2 separate regions of the Homo sapiens genome follow, and region 2 is linked to region 1. Evidence: fine-mapped expression QTL. A gene starts in region 1. The other region holds a variant in brackets. All regions are shown on one strand. Distances are from middle to middle. Region 1 holds the start of USP47 (ubiquitin specific peptidase 47). Region 2 overlaps USP47 (ubiquitin specific peptidase 47).

Evidence for each region. PIP is the estimated chance that this variant, and not a neighbour inherited with it, causes the effect.
Region 2: its variant is fine-mapped to the expression of USP47 in blood mononuclear cells (TOPMed, PIP above 0.99). The same link has a PIP of 0.9 or more in whole blood.

The regions. Positions count from the first base shown.
Region 1 is chr11:11,837,378-11,845,725 of GRCh38, forward strand. It overlaps USP47 (ubiquitin specific peptidase 47), which reads left to right and starts at 4,595. Exons shown (of 28, transcript NM_001282659.2): 1 at 4,595-4,847. The coding sequence starts at 4,809. LOC107984311 (a long non-coding RNA gene) reads right to left here and starts at 4,464. Exons shown (of 4, transcript XR_001748134.3): 1 at 3,798-4,464; 2 at 2,142-2,180. RefSeq lists enhancers at 3,671-4,536, 4,319-4,488, 4,537-5,400, 4,699-4,838.
Region 2 is chr11:11,917,235-11,925,582 of GRCh38, forward strand. It overlaps USP47 (ubiquitin specific peptidase 47), which reads left to right. Exons shown (of 28, transcript NM_001282659.2): 9 at 2,922-3,017; 10 at 3,108-3,260; 11 at 5,490-5,657. Among named protein-coding and RNA genes, the nearest start is that of USP47, 79 kb to the left of the region's middle. The variant A/G (reference allele first, on the strand shown) is at 4,262.

The DNA.
Region 1 (8,348 bases):
GGAGAGACAGAGGGATTAATAGGCAGAACACAGCAGATTTTGAGGGCGGTGAAACTATTCTGTATTATACTGCAATGGTGGATATATATCATTATATATTTATCAAAACACATGGAATGTACAACACCAAGAACGAACCCTAATGTAAACTATGGACTTTGGATGATAATGATATATCAATGTAGGTTCATCAGTTGTAACAAATGTACCACTGTGGTGGCAGCTGTCAATAGTGGAGAGGGTGTGTGTGTAGGGACAGTGGGTGTATGAGAACTCTCTGTGCTTTCAGCTCAATTTTGCTGTAAACCTAAAATTGCTCTAAAAAATAAAGTTTAATTACAATTTCTTCTCATTTACTATTTAAATATAGTCTTTGCTGTGAATAATAAAAACAAAGGCTGGGCACGGTGGCTTATGCCTGTAATCCCAGCACTTTGGGAGGTCGAGCGGGTGGATCACCTGAGGTCAGGAGTTCGAGACCAGCCTGGCCAACATGGTGAAACCCTGTCTTTACTAAAAACAAAAATCTGCTGGGCGTGGTGGTATGCACCCGTAATCCCAGCTACTCAGGAGGCTGAGGCAGGAGAATCGCTTCAACCCAGGAGGCAGAGGTTGCAGTGAGCCAAGATCACACCACTGCACTCCAGCCTGGGCAACAAGAGCAAAACTCCATCTCAATAATAATAATAATAATAATAATAAAGTGTATTAAATTTTTTAAAAACATTTTAAAAACTAAGAAATGAATATTAGTACATAAATATTAACCAAATACACATTTTATTTGAGTTTTACCATTTTTTTTTGTTAACGGCTTCTTCCTGTTTCAGGATCCAATTCAGAGTGCCACATTGCATTTACTTGTCATATTTCCTCAGTTTCCTCTGGTCTATGACAGTGTCTCAGTTTTTCATTGTTTTTCATGACCTTAACAGTCTTGAGGAATACTGACCAGGCATCCTGTAGAATGTCCTCCAAACTGGGTTTGTGTGATTTTTTTTCATACTTTGACTGGGGTTATACTATGAACATTTTCATTTGAAAAGGAAAAGGAAAATATTCCCAAAGAAATTATAAGAAAAATCATCAGCCTCTGACCTACACCAGTCTTGGCATTTGGTTTTTGTTTTTAATTCAACACCAATTTATTAATGACCTACTATGTGCTAGGCATTGTTCTAGACATTGAGGATGCATTATGGACAACCAGTTTAGATTGGATTATCATAAAAGGCCTTTTCGAAGATTTAACATTTGAGAAGCCCAAATGACAAGATTGAACTAGATAAGAGAAAAGATCTACGGGAAGAATATTTCAGGGAAAGGAAATAACTACTACAAAGGCTTTGGGGCAGAGACAAACTTTATGTGTTTAAAAAGCTCAATAAAGGCAAAGTGGCTGGGTCATTGGGCGTAAGAGGAAGAGTGGCAGATGACTGGAGCAAGACAGATGGGTTTGATTACATTGGATCTCACAGGCTATAGCAAAGAATATGAATTTTATTCTAAGAGGGATGAGATGTCTTTGGAAGATTTGGAAGGGATATGACATATTTTTGAAAGATCACTCTGGTTGCTCTATGGAATATGGATTGTTGAGGGATAAGATTAGAAACAGGAACCCAGTTAGGAGGTAACTGCAGTAGTACAGGCAAAAGAATAAAGTAATTGGAGTGGGATGTGCAGTAGTAGATAGAAGGAAAAGTGGATGGATTTGAGATGTGTTTCAGAGGTGGAAGCAACAGCCCATATGAAGGGATTGAATGTAAGATGAAGAGTGTCAGGTTTTTGGTTTGATAAACTGAATTGATGACAGTGTAATTTATCAAGGTGGAGAAGAACTGATAGAGGATATGTTGCAGGAGGTAGGGGAGGCTTGGAAATCAAATGTTCTGTTCAGGTCAAGTTTAAATTTGGGAGGTATTGAGCCATTAAAAAGGTAGATATATGAGTTTACAGCCTATAGGAGAGGTGAGGACAAGGGACGTAACATTTACATATAAAGTAAATAAACACATATCCATGTAATCTCAGTAATAATATATTAGGAAGAGTAGCCATATATTTGTATTTGTCCATTTATTCATTAATCAATTCATGAATCCACATACTTATTCCACAAATATTCATTGTATACTTACCATCTTATCAGGCTCTCCTGCAATAGTCAAGCCAGTGGCCTATAAAGAAAAGAGTGTGCAATCAGAAAAGGGGGATTGTAGGAAGAAAATGTTAGACTTTCTTTTTATATTTATTTTAATCTAAAAACGCAAAATTAAATCTTACTTATATTGAATATATAAACACCAGCATCTCACTACTCCTGAGTGAGAAGTGTGAGTTCTGCAATGTAGAGAATTCAGAGATTCCTTCATTTTCTTTTAGTATGTTGTCACTTATTCCAGTTTATGTGGGCTGGGTTAAGTAGATTTATCAATTACATTCTTATTTCATTATATCAACCTTTACTAAAATGAAAGTGACTAAAAAGGATTTCTGGAAAGACAACATGAGTTTGAAATAATATTGCAAGCATAAGCAAAAAAGATGACAGAGATGACATTTTTACTTCTAGGGTGAGCACTACAGCACTGGCCAGCACTACAGAAGACACCTTACTAAGTCATGGGATGACATTTTGAAAATAAAAGTTTGGAAATATTTCCATCATGTGATTTTGATGCAAAAATGATATATGTGAGCCACCCAAGTCTGGGACTATGGTGAAGCAAATGGTTTTCAAGGTGAAAACCGTTCACCTTGGGCACAAAATTTAAGGGGGGGGTGCCAAAAATTCAATAATCAAGACAACTAATCTTAATACAATATTTTAAAAAGTCAAAATTTATCTTAATCAATCCATGATAATCAAAATATCAAAACCTTAAAGACAAGATCTATAACTCCCAAAACTCATACATGAATACTTAAAACTTGAAGATAGAAATTTTCAACTTCTTAAAAATCTTCTAAGCAATTTATTCCAAAGAGCTTTGAACCCATTTGTAAAAATATAAAAATGCAACATCTTCTGGTTGACATCAGGAAAGATGGAACACTACTAGCTGAATTTCAATAAAAACCTTTGCATGGTTGTTGGATGGAATGGATAAAAATGAAACTTTTTTCATATCAGTTTTTTTTTTTAAATCGTTCTAAACATGCATTAGGAAGAGTGGCCAAAGATGTACTTCCTCCTTTAGGATCTACATCTTTGTGAGTTACCTTTTTTTCAGCTTATGACAGCCATTAAAACCAAGTACAAAAATAACCTGACGTTCAATCAGATATTTTAATAACTATTTCACGAAGTATTAAAGATTTTTAAAACTAACGAAACCTAGTCAATCATATTGATTTCCTTAAATATTTTTAGTGAGAATAACAAAGATTTTTATACCATTAATATGGAAAATAACTAAGTTATTTTAAATGTTTATGTCATCTTTGTCTTAGCCTTTTTACATTTTACAAATGTTTTATAATTCTGCACACAGCAGGACACGTATAAAACTTATATAAGTATATGGATTTTTTTTTGGTAACGGGATTACAATAAAAAAAAGTTTGGAGAACACAAGTGCAGGCAGTTAATGCTGTGGGTGTTAGGAACATGACAAGATTATATTATCTCAGCATGCTGTAAGATCACTGTATCCATAAAAGTCTTCATGAAGGAGCCCCGCCGAGTCTCCATAATGGAAGCAGGATTTGGAGAAATGACTTCTGCAAACTTTGTTTAGTATAACACAAAGCACCATGCTTACTACTAGAGAAGATTAAAATTCTCTAAAAACCTTGTTAACGGAGATCACAGGTTGAAGCATACTGCAGCTCTACTCTTGGAAGGCTAGCTCAGTCTCAGACTTGGCCCTGATGGAGAAGGAAGTTCCCTGGAAGAGGGCAGGGGAGCGCCTCTCCAATGTAGTTGCGGGGGGCGGGCGGTGAGGACACCGCTTCATAAGGGAAGGGGTGGCTGCCTCCCCAAGCAGGGGGTGGCCCCTGAGGTCCCTCCAGCTGGGGGCCCTTGAGAGGGAGGGTGGGGAGAGGGGAAAAGAACGTCAGGAGAGTGAACGGGAGCAAATAAAACGCTGTCCATTCTGACTGGAAGGGCCAGAGCCGTGTCTAAGGGCGGGGGCCGGGAGGTGGCCCGCGGTGGTGTCTCTACCAGGACGAGGCCTGGGGTATCTGAAGAGGGGATGACGTCCAGGCGCTTTGCTAAAGGGAAGCCAGAAGGGTATGAGTTGCTAGGGTCAGAGATGGGGCTTTCGGCTCGAGTCTTTCCCTGCAGGGCAGAGAGTCCGAAGAGCCCGAGAAGGCAGGGAGGACAGTGGGCCTGGTCCTTCCCCGGCCGGCAGAGGGAGTCCCGAGATGGAACGTCCAGCTCTCCTCTAACGAAAAGCGTTTGCATGGCTGTCTCGCCAATTCTGTACCTCCCGGGGCTGAGGAAGAGCCGAGGTGACTAGAAGCTAGCGACAAGTGCCGGCCACCTCCGACGCCAGGCGCCGGGCTTGGAGCCCGACGGGCCGAATTCTCGCGAGAGCGGCCGCCGCCATTTTTCCATTGATTGCAGCGGGCTGGGGGAGGGGCCGACGACGAAGGCGGCTGTGGTAGCGGCGGCGGCGGCGGCGGAGCCCTGGGTCGGTGTCTGCGCGCTGGTGTCTGAGGCCCAGGCTGAGGCCTCCGCTATTGCTGGAGCGCAGGCGGCGGAGAGGATGACTGCCGCTGCCATTCTCTCTTGAGCTAGCGAGCCGCCGCCACCCTCCACCCTCCCCCGGCAGGGCGGAGAGGAGCGGCCGGAGTCAGCGATGGTGCCCGGCGAGGAGAACCAACTGGTCCCGAAAGAGGTGAGGGGCCCCAGAGGAGGTTAGGCCTTAGGCCTGCGGCCGCTCGAGGCAACACAGGCCCGGGCCGGGGTTCGGCTGCGGGCCCGGCCGGGGTGCAGGCTCGGCTGTGGGGGAATGAGGAGGCGTGAGGCAGTCGGGGGTGGACGGTGGGTGCGGCGAGCAGTTGGGAGACCCGCTGGCTCTAGGGGCCGGGGAGCGGACCTCCCGCCTCGGGTTTTATGGGGCTGGACGAATAAAGGAGCGGACGGGAAAGAATCAGGTTCTGCTCTAGGGGAGAAGGTGGCCTTTTAAGTTCTTGTTTAACGTGTGGAGCCGGGAGAGATCATTTCAAAGAAAACATTCTGGAACAGTTGCCTATGGGCACGGCAGGGTGACGGTGCTGCTTCTGGGTTTGACAGTGGCAGCGTATAGCTTTCAGCGCTTGTGAAATCTACACCCAAGTGAGATCTGTGGGAGGGCAGACTTAACTGTTACGACTTTTTTCAACTCCTGTTACTTGGTAGTACTATTGGCCTGCCTAAATGGGGCCTACCGAAGATCGTGGAAAAGTAGTACATGGGACATTAATGTAAAGGAAGGAGATAGGAGAACATTACCACATGGAGAGCTGAACTCTTTTTTTTTTTTTTTTTTTTTGAGGTTGGGTTGTGTATGCCAATTTGAGTGACTTCTTAAATTCTTAAAAGCAAGTGATACGAGAAGCCTTGACTACTTGGCTTCTCTTGAATAGTAGTAGAAGATTTAGGGTAGAATCCAGCACTGGCCAGCGAATTTCAACGTATTAATAGTATCTCTGTTGGCTTTATAAATATCTTCGGCGTATTCAAATGTGTATTTTTAACTGGCTGATCATCAGGCTAATGCTTTGGATTTTTATTTCTCATATACCTTAAATAGAGACAAGTGTTGGATTGAAATTAACTGTGTGCGATCTTGAAATTAATGAGTGATCATTACAGATTCTTAAATTTTTTTGTGCCTGTTTTACTTGTTTTGTAGCAATTCTTTGTTACTTAAGCAAGCTCTGACAGTATGCAAGGGTGATATTATTGGAGTTATGTACCTGTATGATACAAGTATTTTCCCAGCTTTGTCAGAAGGGCAGTGATAGTTGTTTTGCAAGGACGATTTTTGTAAAAGGCAGAGAGTTATGTGTCAGTATTTGTTCATCAAGCGTCACCAACTCTGTGCAAAGCAGATAAACAGATGAGTTAATCAGAATTCTTGCCTTGGGAACTTTCTGAGCTACTAAGAAAGGGAACACTAGTGTTTGTTGAACTCCAATTAGGGACTAGGTACTTTACCACGTAAGTAATTCTTATGCAAGGAAGGAAGTGATAGGTGCTGTAAGAAAGGTATAAATGTGTATTTCATTTTAGAGCTTCATATTGCTGGTTTTCATTTTTATAAAAAACAAAATTCTTTCTTAATTTTTTGACCATTAGAAAAATATCATATAGGTGGAACTCTGCTTTAAGAAAACCCAACATTAGATTTATTTCCCTAATAACTTGATTTATAGAAAACATGATATGATAATAGATACCGAGCTTTGCAGAAACATCTGTTGTGTAAAAAGTGATAACAGCAACGGAAGTTTAAAGATTAAATGCCTGTCCTTTTAAGATTAATTCCCTTCCCTGAGGCTTTAAATTCATCACAACTTATGTTTTTTCCCTTTCTTCTTTTTATGGACCATATGCCTTTATTGTCTATTCCTTAGTCTCATCTTCAGTCTTCTTTTTCCCTGGTTCCTTTCATGATTCCTGGAAGCATGATCTGTGGTTCTTACCTTTTATAGCTAGCCAACTAGCTTTTTCTTCTTTGATGGCCACACTCATTCTTTATTAAAGTGATTGCCTCCAGTTCCATATTTGCTTCTGGATTACTGGAAACTTTTTCTGAAAATCACCAGTTATCTCTTAAATGACCAAATTCTTTGACTTTTTTTTTCTTGCCTCTTCTGCTGTTCGAATTCTCTGCAGGATCTGATAGTTTTTTTAAAAAAACAATTTCTTGATTTTAGTGATACTCCACTTTTCTGGTCATTTTCCCACCTGTTTGTCCTATCTGCCCACTCATTTAGTCAAGGCCTTTCTCTTCTTTTTTGTATTCTTAATTGGCACTTTTGTGTGATCCTTGAAGCTCCGGGACAGGTCCTTTTAAACAGTAGTAGAATCATACAGTGCTAGAGCTAAGAGAAAGCATAATCATCATCTAAGTTACCCCTCCACTTTACAGTTAAGGGAGTTAGGCCCAGAAGATTGAAAGTGACTTGTTCAGGGTCAAATAATGAGTAAATGGCAGACCTAGTGCTAGAACTCACTTCCTTTGCTACTATTCCCTTGATTATACCCTATTTTACAGAGCCCTACATGTAATTTAGAGGCTCTGTAAGAATAGTTTGTAACTCTCTAAGTACATATATATGTGAAAATAAATGGCAAATTAAAAAATTTCATGCATTTATTTTAATGGCTTATTATCAATAATCTAAAGATTTTTTTTTTTTGAGGGCCTTTGTATAGGGAACCTCTGACCCCTGCTAGATTTAGATCTTGGTTAGATGTGGGCATGTGTGCGTGCGTGTGTTGGAGTGTATAGTTGTTCAGTGAATAATATATTTTGGTCCCTGAAACTCAAGGACAAATGTACCTTTAGAGGACTCTTGAAGAAGACAGCTTAGTGTAGTACAGGCATTGGCAAACCACGGCCTGTGGTCCAGATCAGTTCACAGCCTGGTTTTGTATGGCCTGTGAGTTAAGAATGAGTTTTACATTTTCGAATTGTTGAAGAAAAAAAGTCAAAAGAATTATAATAGTCTGTGACACATGAAAATAATGTGTAATTCAAATTTTAGTCTTGAAACAGCTATGCCATTTATTTAGTATTTTGTATGGCTACAACAGCAGAGATGAGTAGTTGCTACAGAGACTCTATGCAGGATAAATTTGAAATTACTTAGCTTGGTATTCAAGGCCCAGTACCATTGATTCTGGCCACAACCTGTCCTTCCAGCTTATCTCTTCTCCCATGAAACAGGTTTTTAATGTAGTCAAACAGGTTTCTCTCTAACTTGCATTTCACTTCTGTTTGTGCTGCCCCCTCCTTCCTGTTCAAAACCTTCATACACATTTTTCCATAAGTACCTCATATCTCATTTATGCTAAATAGCCTTTTCTGACCATTTTAACCTTAGAGATTTCTCCCTCTTAGAAGACCTTTATATAGGAATAGAATTCATTTGGCAATTACTAGATGGTGCTTGGCGACATCTATTATGATCTGAAACTGTAATCTACATTTTATATATTATTTGTTGTGAATTCCTTGACAGCAAAGACTTGGTATGTTTCTCTGTCTTTGCTTTTTGTTTTTGTAGGTTTTGTACTATAGGTTTAAGACAGTGTCTTTCCTGGAGCAGATATTCAGTAAATATTCGTTGATGTGGTGACAGAGTTGTAAGTAAATTTAGCATTCTAACCAATTATCCTGTCCTTG
Region 2 (8,348 bases), 80 kb after region 1:
AAGAAAGTACCAGCCAAGGATTTGATAGCCAGGCAAGTGTTTCTTAATTATGACAGCTATAAAAAGACAAGTTTGAATATTCAGGAACTCATTGGGTATTATATCCATGAGCCATTGAGGAGTTCATTAGAGGATGAGCTTAACCCAACCAAGAGATCACGGGCAGCTTCGGCAAAAGAACTGTGAGCACTTACTATATTAAATTAAGGCCTAAATACAAGGGTGGGAACACGGGAACAGCAGAGTAGTATGTAATGTTACATGTTAGACAAAGTACAAATAATACCACTTTTTAGAAGGGGGAGAGAAAGGGAGAGCAGAATAAGATCACAGACTGTTGTGTGGGTGGGGAATAAAGGAGACCATTTAAAACTGGCAGACACTGAAAGCTTAAGAAAGAGTAAACAGGGTGGGGGTGGGTGGGAAAAAAAGAGGTCCAAGGACACTAACAAAACTATAAATGCAAAAGTAACTGTAGAATAAAATTACAAACCTTGCTAAATACCAAAAGAAAATGTAAAAAATAACAAAGGAACACAATAAATATTACCTAACACACACAGTAATTACACAGTAGTGACTGAGATAGGACCAAGCATACCAGTCATATCAAATATGAGTGGGCTTAAATTGCCTATTAAAAAGATTTTCAAGTTGGTTCAGAAAGCAAACATTAAAATTTGATTTAGGCAGGAATCTGTAAGTGGATGTTAAAATCAAGGGTGGAAGATTTGGTAAGGCTCAGGATTTTTGCATGGTCTCCAAGTATCTCCTTACAGATTGCTTATTAGCCGCGAGAGTAAAAATAATAACTATATGGTAGAGAGACTGGACAATACCTTGACCAGATAATTAAAGCTAATATCACCAAAGAGAAAGTTAGGTACATCATGGCCTGTGACTATGCTACCCTTAGAAGGGCACATCTTTGCTAATGTCATAGTAGCCTAGCAAGGAATGTATAAATCTAATAATGAAGAACATCAGACAAACCCAAATTGCAGAACATTTTATAAAATAAGTGGCCTCTGTTCTTCAAAAAATATCAGTGTTATGAAAGAAAGGCAAACTCTGGAATGCCTCGAGATTAAAGGAATCTCAAGAGACCAAACAAAATCTGTGGCCTTGAGACAGATTGTGTACTAGATGGAGAGAAATACATTGTTAAGGTAATTGACAGAATTGGAATATGGCTGATGAAAGTACTTTATCAGTATTAAATTTTCCAGAGTTTGATTACTGTTTGTGTAAGAATATCTTTATTCTTAAAAAGTCATATTGAAGTTAAGAGGCAAAGCATGATGAGGTGTGAACCTACTCTCAAATGGCTAAAACAAAGATACATAATAATGTTGGGTTGGGCGAGGGAAAGCAAAATTGGCAAAAATGTTTAAAAGTTGATGAATATGAGTAAAGTATTTGAGAGTTCTCTGTTCTTTAAACTTTTCTCCAAGTTTTAATTTTTTTTAAAGATCTCTAGGTATTAACTATAAGCCGGAGACCAATACACACACACCAAAGTAGAATTTGAGTTACATAATTATCTCACTCTCCCTCTCCCCCCATCCTTTTTTGAATATTGAGTTTTTACCAGTTTAAATTACCACTATTTGGAAAGCCTGACATTTAGTATCAGTCTGTGTTAAGCTATAGATGTAATTTCTTTAAAGCTTGTTTTTCTGTTGTTTTTTATAGAACTTTCCTTTTTCCCCCAAAAATATGCCTGAGAGGGAAAAAAAATTTTTTTCTAAATGTGTCATTTGACCACCAATAAAATGCATGGTCATGTGGAAAAAAACCCAGCCGTTTGGTTTCTTCACTTGTTTCCTTGTGTTCTGAGAACAAAATAGGGGATCAGATGGGTTTAGACACCTTTGAATATCTATGTCTTTTCTTATTTTTATCTTGTTCCAAAGTGAGCTCTATCAAACAATATGTGGACAGTAGTTTTCTAAGCTTTGCCAGATATTTTGCAACTACGACCATTAAGCTCCTTTATCTTTTGAGGAACAGCTTGTCCTATATCAAAAGAAAAATATTTGAAGATACTGTCTTAATGATTCCATTTCTTTTAGTTTATGTGTAATATTATCAGTAGTTCTGCTTAGCCCATGTGTGAAGAAAAGAGAGAACATCAGATGAAATTTGAGATTATGCGTCCAATCTTATATGCTATATTAACTAATTTTTTAATCGTGAAAAACCAATTACTAAAATAAAAATTAACTTTATGCCACTGATTCTTTAACAGTATTTATATGAAGTTTCTTACTTCTGTTGTAATGCTGTATGGAGAAAAGAGAACCACGTGGTTCTACCAAATTAACAATCCAGGATCCTCATTATACATTTCCAAATGGAACAGTATCTCACACACACACAGAAGGTTGCACAGTGTTTTTCAATCTTTATAACTAGTGCAGTGGCAGATTACTGACTGATCCTAACTATGGCGATTAAGGATGCTTACATGATTTTTAAGTGTATGAAAAGTGTGAATTCTTTAGAGAACATTGATATTTACTGTACAGTTTTAAATGCTTCCTTTTATAAGAAGATTGATGCATGCAACTGCTTTTCTTAGAAGTGTGGAATTACTTTTTATCTAAGGACTGAGGATATTTTTAGAGATTATTTAGCCAAACACTGCAATGTAAAGTCAATGAAAATCAGGTTGAAATGACTGTGATACTGCAATACTAAGAAAGGCAAATCTTGTGTAGAATGAAATAATTTTTTTTGCTTAATTTTTATAGTGATAATATTATTTTACTGTTGATAATTTTCCTTGGTACATTTTGAGTTCCTAAATTTCTAACCATTCTACTTATAACTTTTAGTAATTACAGTCTTTTTTATTCAGGATTTTGTCATTAATATAATATTTTAAGTAATTATAAAACAAATTTTTTTCTAACTAGGAAGAAGCATTGCATGCATTTATTCAGCCAGAGATTCTGGATGGCCCAAATCAGTATTTTTGTGAACGTTGTAAGAAGAAGTGTGATGCACGGAAGGTAAATGCCATGTAGAGATTAATACTTAGGAATCTGAGATAATATTCCATATTCAATAGACTCTCCCCCTTTTTGTTGTTTGTTTTTTAGGGCCTTCGGTTTTTGCATTTTCCTTATCTGCTGACCTTACAGCTGAAAAGATTCGATTTTGATTATACAACCATGCATAGGATTAAACTGAATGATCGAATGACATTTCCCGAGGAACTAGATATGAGTACTTTTATTGATGTTGAAGATGAGGTAAATATTTGTTATTTTAAAGTATTTTTCATTAATCCACATTAGTCAGTCATGGTTTTGAAAGAGCTGTTTGAGGTAATAACACTGATGTCATTTGGACTGTCTTCTTGATGGAAACTTTTTCTTTCTTATTTTCTAATGTGGAATTCAATAAAATGATTTACCTTTGTATAAGCTTTTCCTGACTGCATAAATTATATTTTAAATATTCTTGTTTGATCAGAGTAACTTATGATACTCTTTGAAAAGACAATAAGGAACTCAGCTTTGGAATTATTTCTTGAAGTTGAGTGATAATCTTATATTTTATAATTTCGTCGTTATTGAAACCAGCCTGAAGGTAAGCCATACTCATGTTTCTGATCTATAATAAATGCAGACAATGCCTATGATGGAATGAATGAACCAACTGAATAGCATGGGCTTAATTTCTTGTACTTACCTACTATTTTGTATTTACTATTTGTCTGTTTTCCTTTTTTAGTTTTTTTAATTTGAAACTTTATTTAAATAATTTAAGCATGGGATTTGAAGTGACACATGATGTAATGCTTATCAATTTCTTCCCACACTTTGGCCTGCCAAAATTCTCTGGTTCTTCTATCCTTATTCAATGAAAGACTTACAATATTCCACTCTATTATTTTGGAAACTCTTCTGATTTTATTATGTGGAATACTTATAATCACTTAGGCTAATTATTTCAAAGTGATTTATTCTCAGAATTACCCTGAAGCGTTTTTTTTTTGTTTTGTTTTGTTTTGTTTTACTGGAACTGATTACTATAGTTATAAAAAATGCCTTTTCCCAGGAGTTCAAAAATAATTTTAAACATTCACTAAGTTTTATTTAGTACTATTGAGTACTATGAGGCAGTTTGGTGTAGAAGAGCACATGTTTTAGGCATAGCTAGATGTGGATTCAAATTCTTGTCCTGCTACTTGCTAGCCTCTTGACCTTGGATAATTCATAAAACCTTTTGAGCCTCATTTCCAGATGCC[A/G]TAGATGAAGTAGCTGTTCATTGAATGGTAACTATGATCAATAACATTTTGAAAAGTTTAATTTAAAATAATGTCTCAGACAGTTGCGCTTAAGCTAGGAAATCTACCCAAAGTGTGCCAGACTTTGAGAGGAGACATAATCTTTGTAGGATTTCTACTCAAATAGAGATCAGTAGTAGATTGGTCTTCTGAATATGCCTAATATATTTCTCATAAAGGAAAATTTTTTCCAAAGAAGGAAAACTTATATATGAAGCTTAGTAGAAACTTCCTAGAGAATTCTAGGTTTAGTTCTTGGGACAAGAAATGTTTTGGCTCAGCTGAAGAAGTTTCAGGAATTATATCTCTTTGGACTTAGATCTATAGCTGGATTTCATCTCCATTTATCCTTGAACCTAACCTTCTTGAGAGATGAAGACTGTATATTAGATGTAGTACCTACAACAAGAGTTCCTGGCAAAAAGTTTGTGCTTATTGTATATTGCTTGGTTTCACTCAAGAACTTCTATGCAATGCCTTATACATTTCAAAAGCCTGCATCTTAGAAAATTCTCAAATTATTTAAATAAAAACATTTTTAGAGATGTATATAAAACGTTAAAGGGGGAAAGGATTGTTTGGGGGTTTCTAACAAAGAGAATTCTTCAAATTAAATTTGTGTGAATGTGGTTTAAAACCATAAAGTAGAAAAGTATAATGTGCTGTAACCATTATATTTCTACTTCCTGTAAAAAGACTATCAAGTTCTTAAGGATGAATACAATGTCTTGTTTCTCTTTCTAATTATCTGTAATACCTAACGCACTGATAAACCGAGTTGGACTTTTTGTTCAAGAAAAGAAATTATATTCTTTCCTGATTTGAGAACACCAGAAGCTCATTTTGGAGCTCAGCTTCTCTGATTTTGTGGATTTTGCTAAAAGAAATGATAATTTCAACCATTATGTTGTAACAGTAAACATAAATGAGGTTTAATAGAATTCTGAATCACTAATTTGTTGTATTAGAATTTTAAGGACATGATAGAAATGCTTTTAAAATACACTGTTGCTTGTTTAATTTTACTTAAGGTCTCAATTTTTAAGAGAAAATAAATGTACTCAAAGTAAAATATTTTTACTAATATGTTAAATTGTGTGAAAATATTAGCAGTATATAGGTACAAAGTTTTGTTGAACATATTTTCTCTGTATATGGTTTATAACTAAGATAATTATGTCTTATTAAGAAATCTCCTCAGACTGAAAGTTGCACTGACAGTGGAGCAGAAAATGAAGGTAGTTGTCACAGTGATCAGATGAGCAACGATTTCTCCAATGATGATGGTGTTGATGAAGGAATCTGTCTTGAAACCAATAGTGGAACTGAAAAGATCTCAAAATCTGGACTTGAAAAGGTACCTTTTATAGTTTGCATTTTTTAGTTGAAAGTGAGAATAATCTCTGACTTCCTATATAATTCTATAGCTGTTGTGACTGATAAAGTTATCTTTAAAAGAAACTTAATTTTTGAAAGTTAAGACTTCTCAAATATAGTTTTTTTGTACATATATATATATATATATATATATATATATATATATATATATATGACTATAATTAAACTTCAGGAAAAACTGCTTACAGGTAAGAACATTAATTTTTGGGAGACCATACTTTAAACTGTCTAAGCAAGCTGGATGGTACAGAAACGATGCCTAGTAGTCAAGAAACCAAGATTCTATTACCACCTCTGCCTTTAAGGTTGCAGCAAGTGTCTATAAATTTTGTCTGAGTTTTCCTATATAGAAAAGTAAAATGTTGGATTAGTCATTGATTTTTAAAAGTCTGGCCATGAAACACTTTATGAGACAATTAATAATAGATCTGATCTTTCTGAGTAGGGAAATGCCAAAGCCCCCTAGTCTTTCTTCCCTGTCCTGCGATAGTCCTCAAGACACTTTGAAAAATGGTATAGTTCTATGGATTATCATTTGAAAACCACAGAATTGGATAATCTCTGGGATAGGATCTTGCCCCTGTGTCAATAACTTTAAGGGTTTTTTAGACCATTTTTTTCCACATATATTCTGTTTTATTGAGGGAAAGATTATAGATAAAACGTCTTGAGCATGGTGTGAATAATAAACTCCTAATGTGAAGACTGATCACTAACTCAGGTATTACAGAGTCATTAAATATAGGGATTTTTAAGGCAATATTTAAAAATAGAGTTTTACTTTCATAAATCTGTTTTTAGACCAAGGCCATTCTTCTAATTATCACCACCACCCTTTACTTTTTAAAATTATCTGTTTCATTCAGGGCAGACAGTTGAGCAGGGATTGCTATGTAATGAATAATGTAATAAGTACATTGTAACTGAGTATAGAAACATGGCATTCTAGCAGGAGTTGGCAAACTATGGCTCAAGAGCCAAATCTGGGCCCTTGCCTGTGTTTTTACATACACTTTCATTTCATCTGCAAATAAAGACAGTATTCTTCCTTTCCCATCTGCATGCCTTTTTCTTGTCTCACTGCACTCTGTGGGACTTCCAATGCAGTGTTGAATAGAGTGGTGAGGGAGAACTTCCTTACCTTGTTTCCAATCTTCAGAGGAAAGCTTTCAGTTTCTTATCATTGAGTGTGATGTTGACTTTCAGTTTTTTATGTTCTTTTCCTACTTTGTTGAAAACTTTTATCATGAATAGGTATTGGATTTTTCCAGATTTTTTTTTCTATGTCAGTTGATATGATCATGTATGTAATTTTCTTCTTCAGCCTGAATTACATAGATTGATTTTCAAATGTTAAGCTGTCTTTGCATACCTGGAATGAATCCTGCTTTGTCATGGTGTGTGTTTCTTTTTATACTTTGTTGATTTGATTTGCTAATATTTTGCAGAGGATTTTTGCATCTGTGTTCATGAGATGCATTGATCTGTAGTTTTCCTTTCTCATAGTGTCTTTATCTGCTTTTGGTGATGTTGGGCTCATGTAATAAGTTAGGGAATGTTCCCTCTGCCTTTATTTTTGGAAGAGATTGTGGAAACTTGGTATTGTTTCTTAAATATTTGGTAGAATTCACCAGAGAAATTATCTGGGCCTGGTGCTTTCTTTTTTAGAAAGTGGTTAATTATTGATTTAATTTCTATAATAGATATAGGACTTTTCAGGTTACCTGTTTCTCCTTTGTGAGTTCTGGTGGTTTGTGATTTTTAAGAAGTTGGTCTGTTTTATCTGTGTTATCAAACTTGGGGGCATAGAGTTGTACAAAGTATTCTTTTATTGTCCTTTTAATTGTCCTTTAATGTCCTTTTAATGCAGGGATGAACCTTCTTTCATTTCGGATACTGGCAATTTGTGTCGTCTTTTTAATCTCGGTTAGCCTAATTAGAGATTTACCAATTGTATTGGGGTTTTTTTCTTCCAAAGGACCAGCTTTTGGTTTTGTTCACTTTTTCTGTTGTTTTCCTATTTTCAATATTGATAAGGATTGCATTGAACCTATAGATCACTTTGTATAGTGTGGACATTTTAACAGTATTAAGTCTTCCAGTTCATGAACAGAGGATGTCTTTCCATTTATTTGTGTCTTTAATTTCTTTCCTTGATGTTTTTTTGTTTTAGTTTTTGGTTTTTTTTTTTTTGAGACGGAGTCTCGCTCTGTCGCCCAGGCTCCAGTGAAGTGGTGTGATCTCGGCTCACTGCAAGTTCCACCTCCCAAGTTCACGCCATTCTCCTGCCTCAGCCTCCTGAGTAGCTGGAACTACAGGCACCGGCCACCACGCCCAGCTAATTTTTTTGTATTTTTAGTAGAGATGGGGTTTCACCATGTTAGCCATGATGGTCTTGATCTCCTGACCTCATGATCCACCCACCTCGGCCTCCCACTGGGATTACAGGCGTGAGCCACCGCACCCGGCCTCCTTAATGTTTTATGGTTTTTCACTGTATGAGTCTTCTGCCTCCTTGGTTAAGTTTATTCCTAAGAATTTTATTCTCTTTGACACTATTGTAAATGGAATTGTTTTCTTAATTTTCTTTTTGGATTGTTAGTGTTAGTGAAACAATAAATTGTTAGTATTTAGAAATGCAACAGATTTG